2 separate regions of the Homo sapiens genome follow, and region 2 is linked to region 1. A link means that fine-mapping ties the variant in region 1 to the expression of a gene that starts in the linked region. Tissue or cell type: whole blood. Region 1 holds a variant in brackets; the other region holds the start of a gene. All regions are shown on one strand. Distances are from middle to middle. Region 1 overlaps LHFPL2 (LHFPL tetraspan subfamily member 2). Region 2 holds the start of LHFPL2 (LHFPL tetraspan subfamily member 2).

Region 1 (2,901 bases):
AAGAGAGAATGAGAACTAAGTGAAAGAGGTTCCCCTTATAAAACCACCAGATCTTGTGAGACTTATTCACTACCATGAGAACAGTATGGGGGATCCGCCCCCATGATTCAATTATCTTCCACCGGGCCCTTCCCATAACACGTGAGAATTATGGGAGCTACAATTCAAGATGAGATTTGGGTGCGGACACAGCTAAACCATATCACCACCCCCAGGAAGCCTCGATTTTAGTCAGCCTTGCGTATCACCACTGTTCCTCTGATAGTAGCAGTTAGCAAACTTACTAGGGAGAACAGAGCATCTTATCCCCCTATTGAAAACAGAAGAATGAAGCCCTTATCCCAGCCAATCTTGTATGGGTGTGAGAATTTGGTGCAGTGAATGAGGAAATGTTTTAGCATAAAGGAGAGGGAACTATATTATTTTTACTTAAGCATGTGGGTCCTTAAGTAATCCTGCCTTCAAATTGTTCTCAGGCATTTTGCTAAGCCCAGATGTCCCATCTTCTCCTGTCCTGAACTTTTACAGCCTTTTTCTTCAGAAGCTGCAAACTAATTGCATTCCTTACTCTGAGTAGAGCTTGCTGGCCAGGGCAGTGGACACTCGAGTAGTCATTAAGATACAAGTCACCCGAGAGGTTGTAGGAGCCCTGCAGTTCTGCAAGAGGACAAATATGAATGTTCTCATTGAAAAATTACATTCAGGCAGGGGTGGTTGCACACGCCTATAATCCTAGCACTTTGGGAGGCCAAGGTGGGTGATCACCTGAGGTCATGAGTTTGAGACCAGCCTGGCCAACATGCTGAAACCCCATCTCTACTAAAAATACAAAAATTTAGCCAGGCATGGTCGTGTGTGCTTGTAATCCCAGCTGCTCTGGATGCTGAGGCAGGAGAGGGGAGGCAGAGAGGTTGCAGTGAGCCGAGATCATGCCACTGCACTCCAGCCTGGGTGACACAGTGAGACCCCATCTAAAAAAAAAAAAAAAAGAAAAGAAAAATTACATTTAACAGAGAAAAGGGATGGGAAAGAGATTGTGCATAACAGTAAAATGGTTTTCTAATCAAATGGGAAGGCTTTATAGCTCTCAACAGGCTGGGCTTGCCACCTGTGGGCCCAAAGTATTTGTGAGCCTGATGGGTACGTGCAGGCTCTCAGGGCCTCCTGGGAGTCCTTGTGGCTCATTTTCTTGTTCTCTTTTAGAATGATCATTTTCATTACAAACAATCTCCTCTAAAGCCCTTAGTAACTTTTTTCTCAAAAGGCTTTCTGTTTGGTACTATCTGGAGGAGGGAGCTGAGAATGAGTGAGTCGGAGTAGGATATACCTTCTGGCTGAATGCTAATTTATCTCCACCAGTTGGATATAAATTATCCAGCT[T/G]GTGGAGATAAATTAGCATTCAGCCAGAAGGTATATCCAATATAAAAACACCAGCTGAGTTAGGTAGTGGGGAAACAGGAAGACCAGGACTCTGCCCTTGAAGGCTGCAAGGTAAGTTTAGACATGAATGACTTCGTCCATCTCTAAGTAGCCTGTGCTTAATGTTTTCTGTGTGCAGTGGCCAGGTTTCTGTAATCTGCTGGGCACCTCAGTTGGATCAATAGTTGTCTGAACGGTGTCATCTATGTTACAGGAAAAGCTTCGGAGGGCAGGGAGTTGATATTTGTTGAGCACTTACTCTGCCAGGCACTGTGCTGGGTGCTTCAGTAGGTTCTTGTTCATTCCTTGCAACAATCTGGTGAGGTAGGCTACCCTTACCGGCTCAGACGAGGGAGCTCTGAGAAGTTAGGCATCCATATGGTCAGTGCTGGAGCTGGCTTTGGAACCCATACCTGATGGACTCCCTTCCCTTACCCAGTGCTTGGCACAGCGCTGTGACACACGCACACACACCCTGACAATTAAGTGCATATGTTCCTAGTAGTGCACTAGCTGTGTCCCCAAAATAGCATCTTGTATAGCAACTACCATGATATGAGGATTTTAAAATACATCATGTTTCAAGGGATGGGTAGAGTCACATGCTCACTAGGAAGTCAGCCAGCAGGCAGACAGCTGGTGCAGGGTGTAGAAACGGGCATTTTAAGCTTTGACACTGGGCTTCCTTATTTCTCCGCTTCTCTTCCTCTTCGATAACTCCCTGCCTCACCCCACTCCCAACATGCCAGGGGGCTCTTTGCAGTTCTCATGGAGTTGATTTGACCTCGGTTAATGAGATCTAATCATTCAGAGCAGGGCCATGTGCCCAGATGTGAGCTATGTGATTGTTCCTGGCCTTGGAATGGGGCAGAAAATGGGGCTGCAAACCAGCCCTGCTGGCCCCCATTTCAGGGTCCAGACTCCTCTGAAGAAGGCTTGAGCCACTGGAGCAATGTCTTCTGGTAATGAAGTCATTCCTCCGTGGAGACAGAATGAGGCCTCTGTGAAATGAGAAACAATGGGCATGTTGAGTTCCCGACCTGGGGTGAATCGAAGCTTAGGCAGAGGCACATGGGATGAATTGGGACAATTCAAGGGATGCATTCTTCATAGACAAGGTTCTGTTGTCAACAAGTCCACTCAGTTGTAATGATGCTTAGTTAACGGTCATTAATGTCTTTTAAAAATAATTTCCCCAAGTAAGTCATGAACTCTTAAGGTTTTTTTTTTTTCCCCTCTGAGTTTTAATTAGTGTAAATTATTTTGTCTAAAAATCACCCTGTGAAAAATGGATAAAGTATAGGTATGGGAGCAATGTTTTGTTTATTCTTTTACATGTGATTCTTTCCTATTTACCTATGAAGCAAACACACTTATGTCTCTGCTAGTAATTTAATTTCGAGGAAATAAAAGCGGGGTGTTGCTACTCTCTACTGTTAAGCAAAAGCGCTTGGTCCAAGTTTCTCAAAACTTAGCTCACCT
Region 2 (2,901 bases), 140 kb before region 1:
TCTCGTGTAGATACAGGCATGGATCTTTCTCGGGGGGAGGGGAGGATCCCCATCTAAAGAGAGTCCCAGGCTCTGAGAAGTGCGTATGGAGGTGCAGTTGTTGTATGGTTTTGAACTGATGATTTTTAAGGAATTCAGAATGTTCTCTGGCAAAGTGCCTCAGAAAGCTTCTAGAACAGGAAGTGGCCTGCCTGAGGGGTATTCTAGAGCCATTCACCTGTAGGCCTGCGCATATGGATGCAAGTGTAGAGAGGACCCCAGCAGAGAACCGGTAGGAGGCCGCTCACGCCATCCAGTGCCAGATAGCGAGAACCAGAAAGGCGGCAGTGGGCTTGAAAGGACATGGCACCTGGAAAGGCATTAAAAATGAAGAACTAATGGGACTGGCTACCGGGAGTGGAGGAGCGAGGCCCAAAATTGACTGCTAATCTGAATCTGGGCGACTGGTGGATAGAGGTGTCCCAGACAAGGGGCTGAGAAACTGGGAATGGGAGCATTTGACTGGGCGGGGGGCGGGGGGGTGGCGAGGGGTGGAATACAAGATGGGTTTGCCTAGAGAGGTGCCACGTCCTAACAGTTCAATCACAAACAATACTGGCACCTGAATTCATGGCCATTTAACTCTGTTCTTTGCTCCCAGCCCTGGGGGCGGAGCTGGGGAGTTAAAGCATCCCCTCTCTGGACAAGAATGCCTTTTCAGGCTGTTCCTAAAGCGCCTCCGAAAATCATCCTGAAACCGTAATTTTGAGGGCAGGGAAGCTGAGGACACCAAGCATTCTATTTAGGAATAATCTTTGTGACTGTTGGAATTGAGTTTCCACACCTAGATATTCAGAGGGCACGGGAACTTATGTCCGGAGCCTCCTCTCCGGAAGAGGGCGGCGAGGATGGGGGTCCAGGCGCCCCTTGGCCCCTTTCCCGTTTCGGACTCTCCGGGGTCACCAGACGGCCGTTCTTTCCGCTTGGGCCCGGGTCTGGGGGAACTGCTCCTAGCGCCCCGGGGCCCGCTCTCCGCCGGAGCAGCCTGGCCTCTCTCCCCCGGCTCCGTCAGCGCCGCTCTCCGCCTCCGGCCCTCCCGGCAGGGCTGCTCGAAGCTGCTCCGGGAGCTTCCCCGGTGCGGCCCGGAGGAACCTCGCAGGACCCCGGGAGACGCCGCCGCCGCTGCCCGGCGGGCTCAGGGACCGGTTCCCAGGCCCCCACACCCCCTCTCGGGGATCCCCTGTCGCCGACTCCCTCCCGGACCCGCAGGACACTCCCCTCCGGAGGCCGGGCCTGGTCCGCCCGCCCGCCGCCCCCGTCCCGCCCCGCGCGCCGCGCCGGGAGCCCCGAGCCCGACCCCTCCCCCGGACGCCCGGCCCGCTCGCGGGACGGAGGCGGCGATGGTGACTGGGCAGCGGCGCGGGGCCGGGGCCTGGGCAGGGCGGCTCGGCCGCCTCTTTCTCTCGCTGCCCCCGCCCCTCCTCCTCCTCCCTCTCCCCGAGTGCTAGCCCGGGCGGCCGCCGAGCTTGGCGCTCTCTCGCCTCGCTGCCTCCTCCCCCGCGCCGCGGACCCTCTCCCCTCCCTTGCGTTGCCCCCCTCTCCCGCCGCCTCCTCCCGCTCTCCTCTCGCTCTCCTCCCGCCTCCTTCTTCCAGGCGCGGCCAGCGGGGGCAAGAGCGAGGTGGCTGCGAGGAGGCGTCACTGAAAGCCCTGACTTGGGGAAGGCTGCGGGCTCGGAGCCGGAGACGCCGAGCTGGGGCCGGGTGAGTGGCAGGCGTCGGGCCCGCGCGCGCTGCGGGAGGGGAGAGCCGGTGGGCCCGGCCAGGTGGGCGCCCCGCGCGGGCGCATGGGGAGCCGTTGCGGCCGGCCGAGCCCTGGCTGCTTGAGCCGCGGCTGGCGCGGGAACTTCGCTTCGGCGCCCTGGGAGACCGCGCCGAGCGGTCGGAGGTGCTGCGGGATGGGCGTTGGGTGCTGGGAATGGGAAGGGAACAGCTGCTTCTCAGCGCCGCCGGCGGCCGCAGAAGTGGAAAAAAGTTGTGCCGGGAACAGCGTCTCCTCGGGAAGCCGGCGCGAGCCCTGCTCTCTGGGCGTCGCTGGCGGGCTTCGGACGGCGGCGCGTGGGTCCCAGGCGCAGCTGGGCGCCGGGTTCCAGCGCGCCTGGCACCGCTCCCTGGGGGCCGCCCCGTGGTCGCCCCTGCTGTCCCTGGTCCGTGGCGTGTGGGTCACTCTGGCCACAGACGTCAGCTGCTTCTCAAATCTGGACTGCATTTTTGTGGGCAGCTCAGTGATTTGGGGTGCGGGCTGGAAGAGGTGGGCGTGGAGTGGGGAAGACCGCATCTGGGATGGGCGGCTTGAGCCCACGGGCTGGGCAAAGGACTGGGGAGACTCTGCGTGTGTTTCTGGATGTTTTTAGGCACACAGTTTTTTTTTTTCTTTTCCCTTCCATTCAGCGGCCCAGTGTTCTTCGAACTTAGAAAAGCAAAGGATTTTCTTCAATCCCGTTCGACTTTTCTGTTATTTCAGGATGGTCATGAGTTCCATGAAAGTCCATGTGCTTGTTTCAATGGGAGCAACACCAGAGTAAAGACAAAGTCCTATCCCCACCCCCGTCCTCGCCTCCACCCGGGCCATTTCCTGTATGTCCCATTTTCTCTGTTGTGATTGTGCGAGTGTGTTTGTGCATGTAGGTTACCATCGGTGGGTGACCTACGTGGAAAGGAGAACTCTTTGAAATTGCAACGCGGCCGCTATGGAAAGTGTGTGCTGGAGCCGAGGGAGGAAAGATTCCGGCGAGCCAGAGCTGTTAGAGGCTCACCCCAGAGAGGTAAACCGGAGTAACTGAGCTTGAAGGGACATTTATAACCTGCACATTGCTTTTGCCTTACCCCTTGGCCAGAGAGCTCCACTCCTGCTAGGTTTAAGAG

The links.
Region 2: LHFPL2 starts here. The variant in region 1 is fine-mapped to the expression of LHFPL2 in whole blood (INTERVAL, PIP 0.92).

The regions. Positions count from the first base shown.
Region 1 is chr5:78,510,856-78,513,756 of GRCh38, reverse strand. The region is part of intron 3 of LHFPL2 (LHFPL tetraspan subfamily member 2); the gene reads left to right. Among named protein-coding and RNA genes, the nearest start is that of LHFPL2, 140 kb to the left of the region's middle. The variant T/G (reference allele first, on the strand shown) is at 1,381.
Region 2 is chr5:78,647,338-78,650,238 of GRCh38, reverse strand. LHFPL2 (LHFPL tetraspan subfamily member 2) reads left to right here and starts at 1,467. Exons shown (of 5, transcript NM_005779.3): 1 at 1,467-1,740. RefSeq lists silencers at 929-1,868, 2,159-2,218.